Linked DNA regions of Homo sapiens: region 2 is linked to region 1. Evidence: fine-mapped expression QTL. Tissue or cell type: whole blood. Region 1 holds a variant in brackets; the other region holds the start of a gene. All regions are shown on one strand. Distances are between the middles of the regions.

Evidence for each region. PIP is the estimated chance that this variant, and not a neighbour inherited with it, causes the effect.
Region 2: it holds the start of KCNAB2, and the variant in region 1 is fine-mapped to the expression of KCNAB2 in whole blood (TOPMed, PIP 0.98).

Annotation. Positions count from the first base shown.
Region 1 is chr1:6,091,990-6,100,160 of GRCh38, forward strand. KCNAB2 (potassium voltage-gated channel subfamily A regulatory beta subunit 2) reads left to right here. Exons shown (of 16, transcript NM_001199862.2): 11 at 2,411-2,496; 12 at 3,334-3,454; 13 at 3,541-3,635; 14 at 4,647-4,767; 15 at 5,280-5,368; 16 at 6,496-8,171. The coding sequence ends at 6,585. Among named protein-coding and RNA genes, the nearest start is that of KCNAB2, 50 kb to the left of the region's middle. The variant G/A (reference allele first, on the strand shown) is at 4,866.
Region 2 is chr1:6,040,851-6,049,021 of GRCh38, forward strand. It overlaps KCNAB2 (potassium voltage-gated channel subfamily A regulatory beta subunit 2), which reads left to right and starts at 5,038. Exons shown (of 16, transcript NM_001199862.2): 1 at 5,038-5,333.

The DNA of each region.
Region 1 (8,171 bases):
AACGGCCCCAGGACCCCACCCCAAGGGCAGGTGTCGATCTCCCTGGGCCTGGGCCCCTGTCTGCCAACTGGTGCTGCCACCTGAACCCCCATGTATTATTTGTGATGCGGCAGGAGATGCTGTGAGTTTTGGCAGCAGCTAGAAGGATTCAGTCTTCCTACTTCCGTTCAACCCCATTAAATATTGAGGTGAAGGACAGTTGTCCCTAATTGTCCCTGGGTCTGGGGCCACTGATATCACACTTGGGCACAAGTGCAGGGTGCTCCCTCATGTGGGCTCCCTGTCCAGCCTGCTTCTGCCCAGATCCTCCAGGGAGCCCAGGGGCCTTTGCCTAGGACTCCCCACCTCAGGACAGCCAGAGGCTCCTGCCCCGTCAGCCCCGTCTCTCCATCACTGCATGGAAGGGGCGCCGCAGGGCAGCATGCGGTTTCACTGGCTGGGACCTTGGAGACCTGAGACAGCTGCCGGGGAGGGAGAGTGAGGGAACGGGGCTGGCCTTGGGGGCCTTGGCTTCCCTCTGTCTGGCATGTGGACCTAAGCCTTGGCTGAGAAGAATCGGGAACTGATGCTGCATGCTCACAGGTGCCCCGAGAGTGTTTCTAAAAAACCACAAGGCCGGGCAGGCCAGGAGCCCGGACCTGGGCAGGATGTAGTCAGAGATTCTCCTGGGACCCTCTAGGTTCTCCTCAAACTTTCCCAACCAGGCACTTCCTGAGGGTCTATCGGAGTTGGCAGTTAAAGCAGGTGGCCCAGGGAGGTGGCCCAGAGAGTTCAGACTCCCTCCCAGATCTCCACCCCCAGGAGGGGACAGAGAGGATTCCCAGGAGCTACAACCTCTGACCTTGGAAGTAAGCAGAGAGCAGGGCTGGGCCTGCAAGCGTGGAAGCCAAGGGTGGTTTGCCAGGGGTCCTGGGTGAGTCTGCCGAGACCACCACTCCAGAAACCCCAGTGGCCTCAGCTCTAGCCTTTAGGAGGCCCCAGGTTCTGCTCAGGGTGGACCTCAGTAAAGGGGCACTCAGGGAGCGACCCCCAAAACAGAAGTGGACGGGAAGCCAGCACTGCCACTTTGTGGCCTCGTTGCCATTCCAGGGGGGAGCCTGCAGAACAAACCCAGCATCTTCCATCCTTCCTTCCTTCCCATCAGCCCCACTCCCAGCATTTTCAGGACCTCAGCTTCCACGCAGCATGGGCAAAGGACAAGCAGGCACTGAGGGAGAGCCAGGGCTTTTCCAGGGTCAACGTTGTTGCTGTCTTTAGAAACACTTGCACTCCCACTCACTCCCACACTGCCTTTGGCGGTCGAACTTGCAAGCACTGTATCCGACCCGTGAGAAGCCTAGCGCCATAGTCCCTCGCCCTGCAAAGCTCAGAGGCTTCTGAAATTTGAAATTTCGACGCCAAGTTCTGTTTTTAAAATCACAATATCCCCATGAGGCTGAGAGGGAGCTATAACCAGCAGATTGCTGTGTCTCAAAGCCATGTTTGAATATTGGGAAGAATCCACTGTGTCGCTGGGGCGAGGGTCCCTCCTCTCTTCTTTAAAAGGCCAGCGTGAAGTCTCCGCGATTTCATCCTCAGGGCCTTAGGAGTCTCCGCCGTCCACGATTCAGGTTGTTCCCAGGGCTCATGGAGCCTCAAAACTGTCCTACTCCAGGCCCTGGCCCCTCACAGGAGGAGCACCCAGACCCCTGTGGCCCTGGGACCACCCCTTGCCAGGGGACAGGCGGGTTGGGACTCTGGCCTGGTGCTGGGCTGGTTTGAGAACCTGGGCCATGGTCTTACAAGGCTTTCCACGCCCACTTCTCAGTCTCCTGGACATGACAGGAAACATGAGCTCAGCCCCGAAGCCCTATTCTCCGGGACCATATGGCGCCCCAGGTCCTGCCACATCTCCTTATCCAGCCCACTCTCTGTTCCAATTAGACTTTGGAATAGCCCGAAGTAGGAGACCAGAAACGCAAAAACACATGTCCCTCCTGCCGCCAATCTGACTGTAACGTTCATGCATTCACCTGGTCCTTCCTGAGTGATCGGGGCCCTCGAATCTTCCCCAGACCAGAGAACCTCCAGTTCTAGAGTCCAGAGCCACATTCTTTGATTGTCCCCTCTAATCTACCATAGAAACATCACGGTCCATCCATAACCCATTTTTCAACATTTCCATAGGCCTGTAACCAGTCGGGGAAATTGTTTTCACGACCAACTTCTAGGATTGTGGTTCACTTTTCTCTTTCATCCCAAAAAACCCCTCCCACACCCAACTTCAGAGCCAGGAAGTACACTGCTTGCAAGACATCTTCGCAGCCCCTGTCCCTCCTCCCAGCGTCCTGCCTGTATTTGCAGAATGTCCCGAGGCTGGCCCTGAGCCCTGGCTGCCCCCCACCTGCGGTTTCCCTTTCTCTCACGACAGAGACCGTCCGCGCCATGACCCACGTCATCAACCAGGGGATGGCCATGTACTGGGGCACGTCACGCTGGAGCTCCATGGAGATCATGGTACGGTGGCCGCGCAGCATGTGTGTGTCCAGGCACAGACTCCCGGCACCGGCTGCGTATGGAGACCCCAAAGCTCTGGCGGGGTCTGTGCCTTTGGTCCCAACTGCACCGATGCCTGGGTGCTAAGGGAGGGACAGGATGGTGGAGTGTGGTGGTTATGTCTGTAGGCCTTGCAGACGGGGATTCTGCATGGATCCCAGCGCTGTGTGGCCCTGGACAAATGGCTTAACGTCTCTGAGCTTGTTTCCCCACCTGTAGAACACATCTGCTAGGTGAGCCCCCATGGGGCCATTCTAAGGAGTCCCTGAGAGAGCCAGTGTGAAGCTCTTAGCAGATGCCCTGGAGCTCAGCAAGCACTCTGGGGTGACAACACCGTCAGCTGTTTCCACTGGGCTCCTGAGACGTGCCCGGTGCTGTTAGGGTCAAGGGTTCCACAGGGACCCTCTCACATGCAATCCTCACCGGTGCCTTTACCAGGTGAGTGCCGCAGGCAGCCCATTTTTCAGATGTGGACACTGTGGCACAGAGAGGTTCAGTAACATGCCAAGGTCACACAGCTTGGGCCAAGATTAACATCCAGGCTGTGTGGTTCAGAGCCTGGGCTGCTCATAACTGGACCCTCCGGCCTGGGGGTCCCACCACCCACCTCCTTTTCCCAGCTCACCAGGGCCTGCCTGGCTCCCAGGGAAGCTATGAGTGTGAGCAGTGGGGAGCCCGGGCTGCAGCTGCTGGGCCAGCCTGCTCCGGGGACACCTTGGTGCCCTCTCCATGGCTGCCCCGGCAGCCTCCCGCCTGCTCACAGGCAAGGGCCCTCGGGGTCCCTTTCTGCCTTCACAGGAGGCCTACTCCGTGGCCCGGCAGTTCAACCTGACCCCGCCCATCTGCGAGCAGGCTGAGTACCACATGTTCCAGCGTGAGAAAGTGGAGGTGCAGCTGCCGGAGCTGTTCCACAAGATAGGTGGGCACCCTCGGGCCCCTCGCCCCGCCCCACCCCACCCCTGCTCTCGGGCCCAGGGCTTGACTCCACCTGCTTTTCCTCTTCAGGAGTGGGCGCCATGACCTGGTCCCCTCTGGCCTGTGGCATTGTTTCTGGCAAGTACGACAGTGGCATCCCACCCTACTCAAGAGCCTCCTTGAAGGTGAAGGAACAGCCTGGTGGGGAGGGACGGGCAGGGGATAGGCATTTTGGACGGGTGGGACCTTTGGGCCGACTGCTTTGGTGCTGGGCAGGGGTTCCGGGAGCTGCAGCTGTTCCCACCTCGGTCTGCTGGGGGCGGGCTCCTTGGCGTGAGAACATGGAGCCCCTCCTGGCCTGATCCCATGTGTAGAGGGGCTGCCCAGCCTGTGGCACAGGCCCAAGTGGAGAGGCCCTTTCACATCCCCCCCCCTGCCCCCACCACATCCCCCCATCTCTACCCCCTACCACATCCCCCACCTCTGCCCCCCACCACAGCCCAGCATTCAGAACTCTGAGACCCCTGGGCCTGGGCTCCGAGATGGGGGCTGCAAAGCCACATGGAGGTGACCCTGGGAGAGGCGCCCCTCCCCACCACACAACCTCTGAGTGGGGACTCAGGAGGGTCCCCAGACTGCAGGATCTGGAGAACAAGGAGCAGGCCAAGAAAGTCTGCCCAGCCAGCAGTCTCAGCACTGGGGCCCACAGCCCTGGGTTCCAGGGCAACGTGGCCTGGCCCCCGACTCCTCCCATCCCATGGCAAGGTCAGGGCCCCCCTCCAGGAGGCCCTGCAATCCTCTGGGGGGGATGGCCAGGGGAGAGAGCACTCCCCTAGGGCCAGGAGGTTCTTCTGGGCCACGGGTGGCAGCCGAGACCCCAGGCTGCCAAGTTTCCTAAGAGAAGGAAGGCCAGCACCTCGCCTCCTTGTCCTGACTTGGGGTTGGGCCAGCACCACAGTCTTTGCACTTCAGAGCCTGGACAGGCCCCGCTCATCCACCAGCCCGTGCCCGGCCCACTGCCCACTCTCCCCTACTTGAGAGGCCTGGGGCAGGGGCACTGCCCTGGCTTCAAGATGAGAAGAGCCCCTATGAGGGAGAAGGGTCCAGAAGGAATGAGCCCATCGGCCCCCTGCACGTGGGGGTCCAGGTGACCTGCTCTCATCTGTAGCTGTGCTGCTCCCCTCCCCCGCAACCAGGGCTACCAGTGGCTGAAGGACAAGATCCTCAGTGAGGAGGGCCGGCGCCAGCAAGCCAAGCTGAAGGAGCTGCAGGCCATCGCCGAGCGCCTGGGCTGCACCCTGCCCCAGCTGGCCATAGGTAACGGTGGGGTCGCCATGGGGCCAGTGCCCCTGGGGAGAACCTGCCCCAGCTGGCCGTAGGTAACAGGGTGGGGTTGCCATGGGGCCAGTGTCTCC[G/A]GGGAGAGAGGGAAGGGATCCCTGGACATCATCCCCCAGCCAGCCTCGGGTAATCGGGCTCTAAGGGGCATGGTTGGGACCCCATGCCTCTAGGGGGATGTCAGGAGTCCCTGAGGACCTGGGCCACCCCCTCCATCTGCCAGCCATAGGTAATGGGGCTCCCGCTTTCATGGGAAGAGGATGGGGAGCGCTAAGCACTTGGGCCACCTCTCCATCAGGGAGCAGCGGGCTCCCCCATGCCTCCTCCAGCCACCTCTTAGACAAAGCCCGTGCCCAGCACTGCAGGGCTTCCTAGACCCCCTCAGACCCCCAGACCAAGATGCTGGGTCTCTCGGCCCAGTCAGAGGCAAGGCAGACCCATCAGGGGCCCCTGTGGTGGGTGTTTCTCCCTCACCTTGGGTCTCGCCGCCACAGCCTGGTGCCTGAGGAATGAGGGAGTCAGCTCCGTGCTCCTGGGGGCCTCCAATGCGGACCAGCTCATGGAGAACATTGGGGCAATACAGGTAAGAGTGAGAGGCCCTGCTGGGCAGAGGGCCCATCCCAGCCCGAGCCCCGTCCAGTGCATCCTCCCAGGCTCGTCCTGCGTGCCAGGCTCTGTTCTAGGCACTCAGGATGCGCCCGTGAACCATCAGAGTTGTGCTCCTGGAGAGCTTGCTTTCCAGCAGGAACAGACATGAACACTAACTGCACGAAACAAGGAGGTTAGAATGTGTGTCAGGGTGGACGAGCGCTGTAGGAGAGAAGCCAGAGATAAAGGGAGGGAGCTGGGGCCAGGGACGGTGGCGCTGCAGACTCAGGTTCAAGGGGGCCTGTCAGGTGGGCTTGTTGAGAAGGTGGTGCTTGAGCAGTCTTGAGAGATGCGGAGTAAGTCACGCAAATGCCTGCGGGAAGAACCTTCCACCAGCAGGAAGAGTTGATGCAAAGGCCCAAAAAGGCCTGGAGCAGAGGGGCAGATCCTGAGAGGCACGAAACACCTCCAGGGACTTCTGAGTGAGACGGGAGCCGTGGCAAAATTGTGGGCAGAGGAGGGCGAGCTGCAGCTCAGCCTGGAAAGGGAGGCTGCTCTCCGGCTGCTCCATCGGGGAGGCTTTGGGAAGCAAAAGTCGAAGCAGAGAGCCCTGGTGGGAAGTGGCAGCTGCGGGTCCGAGACGGGAGTGGTGGTTGGATCCTGGATGTTTGGGAAGGTGGGGCCCCCGGGACTGGCTGACAAACTGGATGTGGGGGTGAGAAGGCGAGGTGGAAGTCGGTCCCCGGGTGTGTCACCCGGAAGGGTGGCGGTGCTGTATGCTGAGGCAGGCGCAGCTGGAAAAAGCAGTCACGGACATGGAAGTCCAGCATTTGGCCTGGAGTTTCCATTTTATGTCACTGCTGCCACCACCCTTCAGGAAGGTTCTAGGGCACCTTGACATTTGAGAGGGAGTGCACAGACCCAGGCATGCTTCCTCTCTGCCCCAAACCTTCTGAAACACAAAAGCAGCGTGGCCTCCATCTGCCTCAGATGGAGCCCAGATGTGATGGGGCAACCCGGGCCTGGCCAGCCGACCATCTGGAAGAGCCTGGCCCCACCTCCTCCCCAGGCCAGGCCCGTCTTGTTGGTGGGATTCTGATTTGTTGTTGTTCTTGCACGCAGGTCCTTCCGAAACTGTCATCTTCCATTATCCACGAGATTGATAGTATTTTGGGCAATAAACCCTACAGCAAAAAGGACTACAGATCCTAAGCCGCCCCCGCCCGCCTGCTCGGACAGTTTCCGTTCCCTCCTAGTCTCTGTTCGCTCGCTTAAGCTGTTTTGAAGCCAAGTGAAGAGTGTGGTTTGCATCCAAGAGAAAACACCACACTGTGATGTCATCGGGAAATGATCTCCCAAGTCGCTGCCAGACACCACCCACTGCTTCGCCGGACAATGTCGAAGTCCAGTCTGTGCCGGGGAAGGCACTGGTTAGGAAGGATGTTCAAACGGTCCCACCCAAGCCTGTCACCTCTGCTCATCCTCCAAGACCACCCAGCTTTCTCCCAGCCACAGCCAAGATTCCCAAAGTCAAGGCCCAAAGATTTCCAAGGTTCCCAAAGTCAAGGCCAGGCCAAGGCCTGGTTGGGTCCTTGGGGCGGGCAGGGCCAGCCTCTCCTCTGCTGAGAATCCCCACTTGGTGTAGGGGGAGAGGGGAAAGGGGTCTGGCCCATCGAGGGGCCCCTTCTGCCAGGGCCTTGGTTGCTGGGGCAGGGCCTCCCCACTGGGGGTCTTCCTCCACCTCCCACTTTCCAAGGGCTCCAGGAATCTGGGGCCTGACCACAGATTCCTCTCCCATCCTTTTCTGCTCCAACCTGCCCCACTGGGTCCCGGCAGGGGCCATGCCTACCAAGCTCGAGCTGGCCCTTGACCCCCACCCACCCCCACCCTTGCTGGCAGGGGCAGGGACCCCAGGGGGATTGACTCTGCAGTTTGGGAGCCACAAAAAGCGTAGCGGTGTGATTTCTAGCTCAGCCTCCCACCGTCTTCCTCCTACACACCAATGATGAGCCTCATGCCAGTGAGGCCCGGAGCGCTTGGGAGGGGTCCCAGTGGGGCAGGCCCCTCTGTCTGGCCACCCCTCTGTCCTGGCCCCGGAAGGCCCTGTGGTCATGTGCTCCTAGCTGCACGGTGGCTGCTGGCCACACCACGGCAAGTGGCAGCAGGGGCCGGCCCTGTGCACAAGGATGCACTCCTCTCGGCCCCTGTAGACTTTCTCTAAAGCCGCCCGCCAGCCCAGGCCGCTGCTCTGCACCGAGCTGGTGGGCTTGGGTTTTGTGGAGCGCATGCTTGGACCCTTTCAGTAAGGAAGGGTCTTTGGGGTTTTCTGTGCCCATGACTTGGGGGCTGCACCCCCACAGCACCCCCACAATGTAGGAAAAGACCTCAGGGAACCTCTCCCTGGAAAGACGGGCAGGGCTGGTTAGCCCCTCCCACTGCCTGACACCTGGGACAGGCTGGGCAGAGGGGAGAGAGGGCAGGACAGGCCAGAGTGACGCCCCCGTGCAGCTTGGGCCGGAGGGCAAGGGATGCCAGTAAGTCTGCAGGTGCGGGGTGCCACCTACAGGCCCAGGCCTGTGTCCCAAGCAGTACCCAGGCTTTGCAGACCACGCGGGGCAGGGCTCCACTGAAGCCACCCCCACCCCTCGCCAGCTAGCTCCATAGGGAAGCCTGTGTCTCCTGCCCCCAGGGCGCACCCTCAGTGCAGGCACCTCTGTTCCCGCTTTGCCCCTGGAGGAGCCACTATTCCAGAAGGCTCCACCCTGCCGTCCTGCGGGAGCCTGCTGTCCAGTCCTGGC
Region 2 (8,171 bases), 51 kb before region 1:
AGAAAAACCAAAACTTTTCCAGGGCGTTTGAGCCAGAGTAGACTCCTTTCTTGTCCCTGACCCTTCCGAAATATCTCGTTTGAGGTTAACAGAGCGGCCGGACAGTGAGTGCACGGCCAACCCCGGCATCCTGTTCCTCCCACTTTATACATCGCAGCCCCTGTGGCCCTGCCAGTTTCTCCTGAGCGAGGATGACGACCTTGCAGGCCTTTGGGGAACCACGTCTGCCGGTTTCCCAACACTGGAGGGAGTGGGGGCGGCCAAATGCTCCTGGGGCATCCTGACCCCCTCCTTGTGGAACTCACTTCCGCTTGCAGCCCTGGGTGTTTCTGTCTGCACCATAAACAGCGCTGAACATCAGCGACAGCTGCGGAGGGCGTTCAGTGAGAGCTGAGCCTCTGGGGACAGAGCATAGAACCCACGAAAGACGCAGGCACAGGCAGTACCCCAGCAGCCCATCAGTCTTGGGAAGCCAGACCTTTCCGGATAATCACTGGGGCCTGAGCCAGAGCCCGTGTCTGTGACAGCCACAGGGAAAGGCAGTGTCTGTCCTAAGAAGAGCCAGGCGGGCAGGTGCGGGTTTGCCAGCACGCGGGTGCTCTGCACGTCTGGGTTGGAGGGTTTTCAGCCATTGCCCACAAGCATATTGCAAAGCAAGTCCTGAAGCACATTCAATCCAAACCAACCCTCACTCGGAGGTTCACCACGGAAAACAGGGCCTGGCATGGAAGGAGCCCTTGGTGTCCAGGAAACTGGCTCCGGGTCTCTGCCCCGTGGCCACCGGGTGGCGCTGCTGCAGAGCACTTGGCACCGGCTGCGCTTCCTCAGAGACTGCCCTGAGCAGGCGACTGGTGGGGGCCCGGGGGCATGGGACATTGGTGGTTCTTTCTGACCTGCACCTGCTGGGGTTGATGCCAACTGTGGACTCTCTCTCTTCTCTCCCTTTCTCCTTTTTCTCTTTTCTCCATTGCTGTCCGAAGTACTCGGTATGGGAGTCCCAAAAGACAGCTCCAGTTTTACAGGTAATGAGTCTTCATTCTCCCTAAAACCCAGCGAGCCGAAGGCCAGGGAGCGGGTGGGAGGACTGCACCCTTGCCGAGCAGGGTGTGCTGGTGTATTCTCTGAAGCCAAAGCCCCCGAGACCCCCAGGCTCTGCTCATCACCCTCTGTGCCTACCCACAGGATGCTGTGCAATGTCCTGATGGAAAATGTGAAGTCAGGTTAATTGTATGTGTTGGTCTGCCAGAAGTTTGCTTTGATTTGAGCAAATGGGCTTTTGATGACTGCCAAGCTCTCAGCCAAATCTACCGTTAAAGCTTCACTCATCAGGCAGTGAGGGAGATGTCTTCCTGTGGTCACCAGCTTGCCCTGCTTCCATTATCAGAGTACAGGACGTGGCGAGCCCATCCGTTCCCCCTTTGCCTGTGGGTTTGACCTGATCTGGAACTCACAGAGCTCCTCAGGCTCATTGAAGGTTAATGCCTGCTTGGGGGTGTGCAGTACTGATACGACGTGGATCAGTGACATCTTTCTGATATGTTTTTCTGTTGGTGAATTAACAAACCGGGCACCTGGCGAGAGACTGTGCCCCAGCAGGATGTGACATCAAGATGCCAGGCTTAGGGCCCTGCAGGGTGCTCTTGGGGAGACCCGTTCCTCTCTCTGGGCTGCCTCTCCCTCACCTGTAAGGCAGGGGATGCATGTTCTTGGTGCAGCCTCCAACCCTAGGAAGTAAAATGTCAGGGCTGCCTGGAGCCCATGGGCAGCAGCCTCCCCATGCCTTGGGACTGTTTGGGGAATTGGCACGGCTTCTGGCAGCAGGTCCCTGGTATGCATTGCTGCATCTTGGCGGTCAGGCCGGGAGGTCTCTCTATTCGGACCCGGACATCTGGTAACAGTGCTTTGGGGATCGTTGCCAATGTGCCAGGCAGTGGTCATGGAGGTGGCAATGTATTTCCATGTAGCTTTTCTCTCCCCGCGCCCCCACTCCCCACCCCCCCCCCCGTTTGCCAGCCATAGCACCTCTGATGGGGACCGTGGACCTAGATGCTCAGAGTGATCTGTGCCACGCCTTCAGTGCCTCCTCGGAGGTCCTGCTCCTTACAGGGAGCTCTGAAGACATGGCCAACTCTTAGATCCTACTGAAATTTTGGTAGATAAGATTTTGCTTAAGATAGTTAAATCTGAACTCCGGCTTGCAAATGCTTTCCCTGGATGAAATGTTTGTATTGTGATGTATGTACACATGGTATAACAGATCCTAACAAACATATGCCGCTCATCCCAGGGGATTTCATCAGTGAAACAAAACATGTACCTGAACTGCATCCTCAGAGAGCCGGGAGCAGCCTCAGTCCTCAGAAGGGAAGGGGTGAGGTCTGATGAGCAGGCAGGAAAATCCCAGGTGCAGACCTGCCAGCTCAAAAGGGCTGCCCACAGGTACAGACCATCCAGCTCCAAGGGCCTGCCCCTAGGAGGGGCCAAGTAAATTATCCAGTGACCAAGTGAGAGCCTTCCAGCCCACTCAAGGCCCTCAAAACCCCACAGGCTCAACATGTTGTCCCCCCCGCCGGGATCCCTGTGCTTAAGAACCTTCATTTCCAGGTGGCCTTCCTGGCCCCAAGGGAAGCTCTGAAGCTTACCCTCTAGGCTCTCAGCCCCAATTCTGGTGCCCACAGGCTCTGGCCATCCTACCCGTTGGATCTCCAGGGGGTCACTTGGGTGTCTCTTGTGGGGGCTCTGGAGATGACCTCTAAGGGCTAGGGTCTTTGTTTGTTAACAGGCTGGGGGCCACTCCTAGTAGGGCACCCTCATCACACCAAGCATACCACTAAACATGGCTATTGGATGGTTCTTTCAGTTACTTAGGCCTGGCCCTCTCACAGGGCAGAGGCGTTCAAGGCATGTGCCCTGCCCCCATGCAGCTCCCAGGCAAGGAATTGGCATAGGACACTGTGCCAATCAGCTGTCCACCAAGTGCTGCATAACAAACAACTCCAAAACTCAGTGCCACGCAGCAATCAGCATCTCTTCCTTGCTCCCGTGTCTGCGGGTTGACCAGGCAGCTCGTCTAAGCTGGCTTGGCTGGGTTTGTCTCCAAGCTGCAAGTTGGATCCCCATGTCCTCCATCTTCCCATGCTTAACTGGGGCCTACCCCAGGCATGTCCTTCCCATGGCAAAAGTACCAGAGGAAAAGCAGAAACATGCAGGGTCTCTTACGGCCTATGGTTGGGGTCAGAGCGCTGTCACCTCTGCTCACGTGCTTTTGGCCAAAGTAAGTCTCAGGAACCAGCCCACAGTCAAGGGGCTGGAAATATATTGCCCCCACCAGTGGGAGGAGCTATAAAGTCACATGGCAAAGGGCATGGGTACAGAGAGGGGTGAAGGATTGGGAGCAATACTTCCATGTACCCCAGGTCTCAAATAGCCCTGATGATCTCCAGAAGGCAGAGCACGTCACAGGAGAAGCCCAAAGAGCATTTGGGGTCCAAGGAAGGAGGGGCCACAGCCAGCTGAGAGCCAAGAAGACTTCACGGAGAAGGCAGCAGGGGCTTGGATCTGGTCCTTGAAGGCTGGGCAGGATTCAACGCAGAGGCTGGGAAGCATATTCCAGTAGATACAACAGCCTGAGCCACAGCTCAGAGGTGTGCACAGAGAACAGGAAGTGACAGTTACCCAGCCTGGGCCATCAGGGACATGATGGAGAATAAAGAGAGGCTGGCTGTAGAGGTGGATGTTGGTGGGGGGCCTCGAATGCCTAGCGATGGGGCACAGATGCACTCAGAGGGCACTGGGGAGCCATCTATGGTGTTTGAGCAGGGCAGGGGTCAGAGATCTGCTCTAGGAAGGAAGCCTGGTAGCAGGGAGTAAGACAGGGAAGAGAGAGGCTAATGCAAGGAGACCAGACAGTGCCCAGGAAAGGTGCAGGACGGCTGAGCTCCAGGAACTGCACAGAGAGAGAATGAAGGGGTGCAGGGCCTGAAAAAAGGACGTCAGAAGCCACGTCCACAGGGCTTGGCCACTGATGGGCAGGTGCTGAGACAGAAAGGGACAGAGAGGAGCAGTGGACCCAGGGAAGGAGAGGGCCTCATTCGGAGCATGTTAGGCTGCAGCTACCACCCAGTAGTGAGGCGCAGGCCCCCCGACCAGGGCGACATGTGGGGATCTGACAGAGTGGGCTTGGGCCTTTGGGGACAAACCATTTCAATTGCCAAGGCCTTCGCAGCTAGTCACCCGCAGCCAGGCACCTCCAGACTCTACGTGCTCTCCCAGCCTCCCACTTCATTTACCTTCCACACTGCGACTGGGGCACTGATTTCCTGTCCCCCACCTTCCCCCATGGCAGCTACCACTGTTTGCTCATTCATCATGGGGGGACGGTTCTGCCTCCATTCAAAATCCCACATTCACTGGCGCGCTTTCTCAGCCGGAAGATGATGTCACGCTGGGACTTTGCTGGCATCCTGTGACACGCAGTGACCCTGGGGGTCATGACCCTGGGGTTGGGGCTCAGCACTTAGCCTCATCCCAGAGCTCAGCCTTGTTTGGCCTAGTCTCAAAGCATTTCCCAAACCCCAGGTCAGGACATGTGCCGTGGAGAAGGGCTCCTGTGTCCCTGCCTGGAGTGAGTGGCAGTGTGGAGTCCAAATAGCAGGTTCTGGGGCCTTCCTGCCATTTATAGCTACCGGTAGTATCAGATATACCCATCTCGGGTGTATCCCCAGAGGACAGGAGGAGCATGCGCGTGTGCTGAGCAGAGGCCTCTCCAGACCCCCTTGGCTGTGGGTGGTGGCCCCATACGACGGGGCCCCCAGCTCCCCTGCTGCAGACACAGTTCAGAGTTGAGTGGTATGCGGAAGCCACAGGCTCTGTGTCCCGCACTCAGATACCAAAGAGCAAGGCCTGCCCCTTTCGACCTGTGGGTCCAAAGGTTTGTGTTTCTGGCACGCGGGGATGGTGGAGGCAGCAAGGGTAGGCCTGAGGGACGGGCAGGACCTCCCCCTCACCTTGGGCTGCACCCCAACCCCACGCACCGGGAGTCAGCCTTGCCAGGTTGCAGCACGGAACTGCACTTCCCGAGCTTTTAGGGGAAGAGGCACTCGTGAATAATTCAGCCTCTTTCACTGAGATGAAAACGCCCTAATAGAACTAATGGACTCGCTGCCTCAAAACTCGACTCTGGTGGGACTCATCTCATTCACCAATTGCTTCTGACGTCCTGCAGTGACACTCCCTAATGAAAAAGCCGCTGTGCCAGATCCTTAGAGTGTCTGGTGATCCCTAATAAACCAGACTGTGGCCTTTTTAACGAGCAGACGCCCCCACGAAGGCAGGTGAGTCCTCCCTTCAGCCGCTACCTTCCTAGTGGAGATGCCGCTTGGGGGCACGCATCCGCGGGAATGAAAAATAACAGAGGAGACCATATTTTGGGGTGGTTTTGTCTGATCCGGAATTAGACCCTCCGTGTTTTTGCAAAGCAGAAGACCTTAAAAAAGAGCCAGCCTGAGGTAAACTTGGAATGACCGTGATGGATGGGGTGGTGGGCGGCAGGTTTCAGCCGGGCAGCACCTCTCGCTTGAGTCTGCTCACAGCCCAGACCTGCCCAAGGCTGACTGTTTTCCCATCTGCCGGAGACACGGGCGTCTAGCTCGTACCTCGCTGTGTTCACCATTGATTAAGATTCAGCATTTTCCAGTTTTGCCCAGAGCGCTGTCAGGGAGGTTTGGTCTTGTCTGAAATGTCTGTGCAGGAAGCACGTGCTGAGGGAGCCAGGGGCTGCTTGTTTGGGCCTCAGTTTGCTGATTGTCCTTGAGCGAAAATCATTCTGTGTTTGCACTGAAGCAATGCCGTGTCTTGTAGAGCCGCACCCCGGAATGGTAGCAGCTCCCCTTCCATTTCCGCTTTGGAGAACTCTGGCTGGGCTCTCTGCTCTCTGGACAGGTGTCACCATTCAGAAGAGATGCTCAGGGTTCCTTCTCAATCTCAGGTTGTATGCTTTGTTGGCTTTCAGTAAACAGAACAATTCAGAAATTCCAGGTAGAGGAGTCTGGGGTGAGGTAGTGATTCCTACTGACTTAATGAGGTTAACATCTTCCTTGCATTTTTCCATGTCACGGTGTTAATTCACGTGAATTCCCCTGGGCCCCTGATCTACAGGAATAGATTTGCACCAGGCAGGCCCAGCCCAGGAAAGAACTTGTGGGTTCCACGTAATTAGCAATGGCTATTGAGGAGGGGCTCGTTTTTCTTGGTACCAGGGTGGTGAGGGAGTGTCAGGGCTCAGAGACCCTCACTCTGGAAAGCGGCCGGGATTTGGGATATTTTGAATTGGAAGTCAGGGGTCACTGTGCTCTTGAGCACAGGAGAAGTGGGGACCCTGAGGCAGGAGCCCGGCAGTGGGGCCACTCTCTCCTCCCTGCAGTGTCTTACCGGGGGGCCCTTCGTCCAAGGACCTGACGCTGCTAGAGTCTCGGCAAAAGCCCAGAATAGAGCCCCAGTGTGAGGGAGTCCAGAGGTGTCCTCTGTCCCCAGGCACCGCTGGTAACGGGCAGAGCCTCTTTGCCTTCTGCCTGTACCTATCCTTCTTCCCCTGGGGCAGCCCTCCCAGAGTCATGAGCCTTCAGGACCACAGGGAGCCCCCGCTGTACAGAGTCCTGGCATGGGAGTCCCCCCCACACAAGAGAGGGTGACCTGCAAAGAGCTGCTGGGTCTGAGGTAGGAAGCCAGCCCCGCCCCCACCAACAGCTGCCTGGCACTGCCAGGAAATGCCCAGGTATAGCCCTGGTTGGCCTTTTGGAGCCTGGGCCTTGGTTACTGTTCTACAAATATCTGAGCCCCTCCTCTGTGCACGGGACACTCCCGTGGGCACTGGTCAGGGGGCAGTGGCAGCAGGCAGAAGAGTCCTTGCCCTCCTGGACCCAACCTTCAGGGGAGTCCAGCGGCCATGGGCTCCTCATGGCACCAGCCCTGCTCCTCACCCCACCACCCCATGCCAAAGGCTGCCATTTCTGTGCCCGCAAGTTCCCTGGCCCAAGCCCTGCCCTGGCACCATGGGGACAAGCTCGTAGCAAGAGGCTCTGGGCTCCCTCCGTGCCGCAGGGCTCCCACCTGCAGGTCTGCTCCCAGGGCTGCAACATGAGCTCTAAGGAAAGATTGCAAGCGGGCCCCCACAGGGAGGGACGCCCTCTAAATCCTGGCCACAAAACCCATTCTGTCCTGCCCTCTCTCCCCTCTCCCACTCACATCCCCAAACTCAGCCTTCCACCATCTTGTTGTGAAGGGGGCGATTATTCACATCTGTGTTCTCTTCCCTTAAGCATTTTCTAGGGAGATTTGGTGTCTGTGTGGCTCACTCCTCTCACTCAAACCTGTGGTCACAAGTTCCTTCCCGCCCTGCCTGCTGGCCCCTGGTGGTGGATTTTTCTTTCCACAGCATTTATCATAATTGGTGTCTTATCCCACGCCCCCCAACAGACTGTCTTCTGGCTGCGTCACCAACTCCCACCCAGTTGTCCAAAGCCTCATCTCATGCAGCCCACAGCAGCCTGGTACAACAGGCCTCTGCCCAGCCTACCTCACAGATGTGGAGGCTGAGGCCGGGAGCGGTCAAGGTGCCTGCCTGGGCCACACCATGAGCAGGTGACAAGCAGAGCTGCCCCTGTCCAGAAGCTGGGCACTCAGCCACCCCGTCCTCCAGCCCCGGGGCCTTGGCTATATTTCTAGAGCCAAACCAGACCCGGATTGCTTTTTGTGAGTAATGTCTTGAAAGCTAATGGCTATTGATCTCAGCCTGGTCGGGCCAGGCAGGGAACTTGCGTGTCTGAGGCTGGTCCTGCCTTTCAGAAAGAGCCCTGGGGCTACAGCCTGCCCAGCTGGCCTTCTTTCTAAACACAGACCTCAGGGAAGTGAGGGTTGGCCCCCATTTGCCCCACACCGGACTGGCAGCTAGCCACATGGCCACCTCAGAAGCAGCTGCCTGCCACGCGCATGGAGGGAAGGGAGTGGCCGGCCAGTAGGCAGGGAAGGGAAGCTGGTGCTGCTGTCTGTGGGTGCCAAGGGCCTCATTTCCTAAGGTGAACCTCTCCTGGAGTCCGGGCCTCTCTGCCCTCCAGAGCGATTCTCCTGGAAGGCAGACGGCTTTCCATGCCAGGGTACCCGCCTGCTTTAGCGTC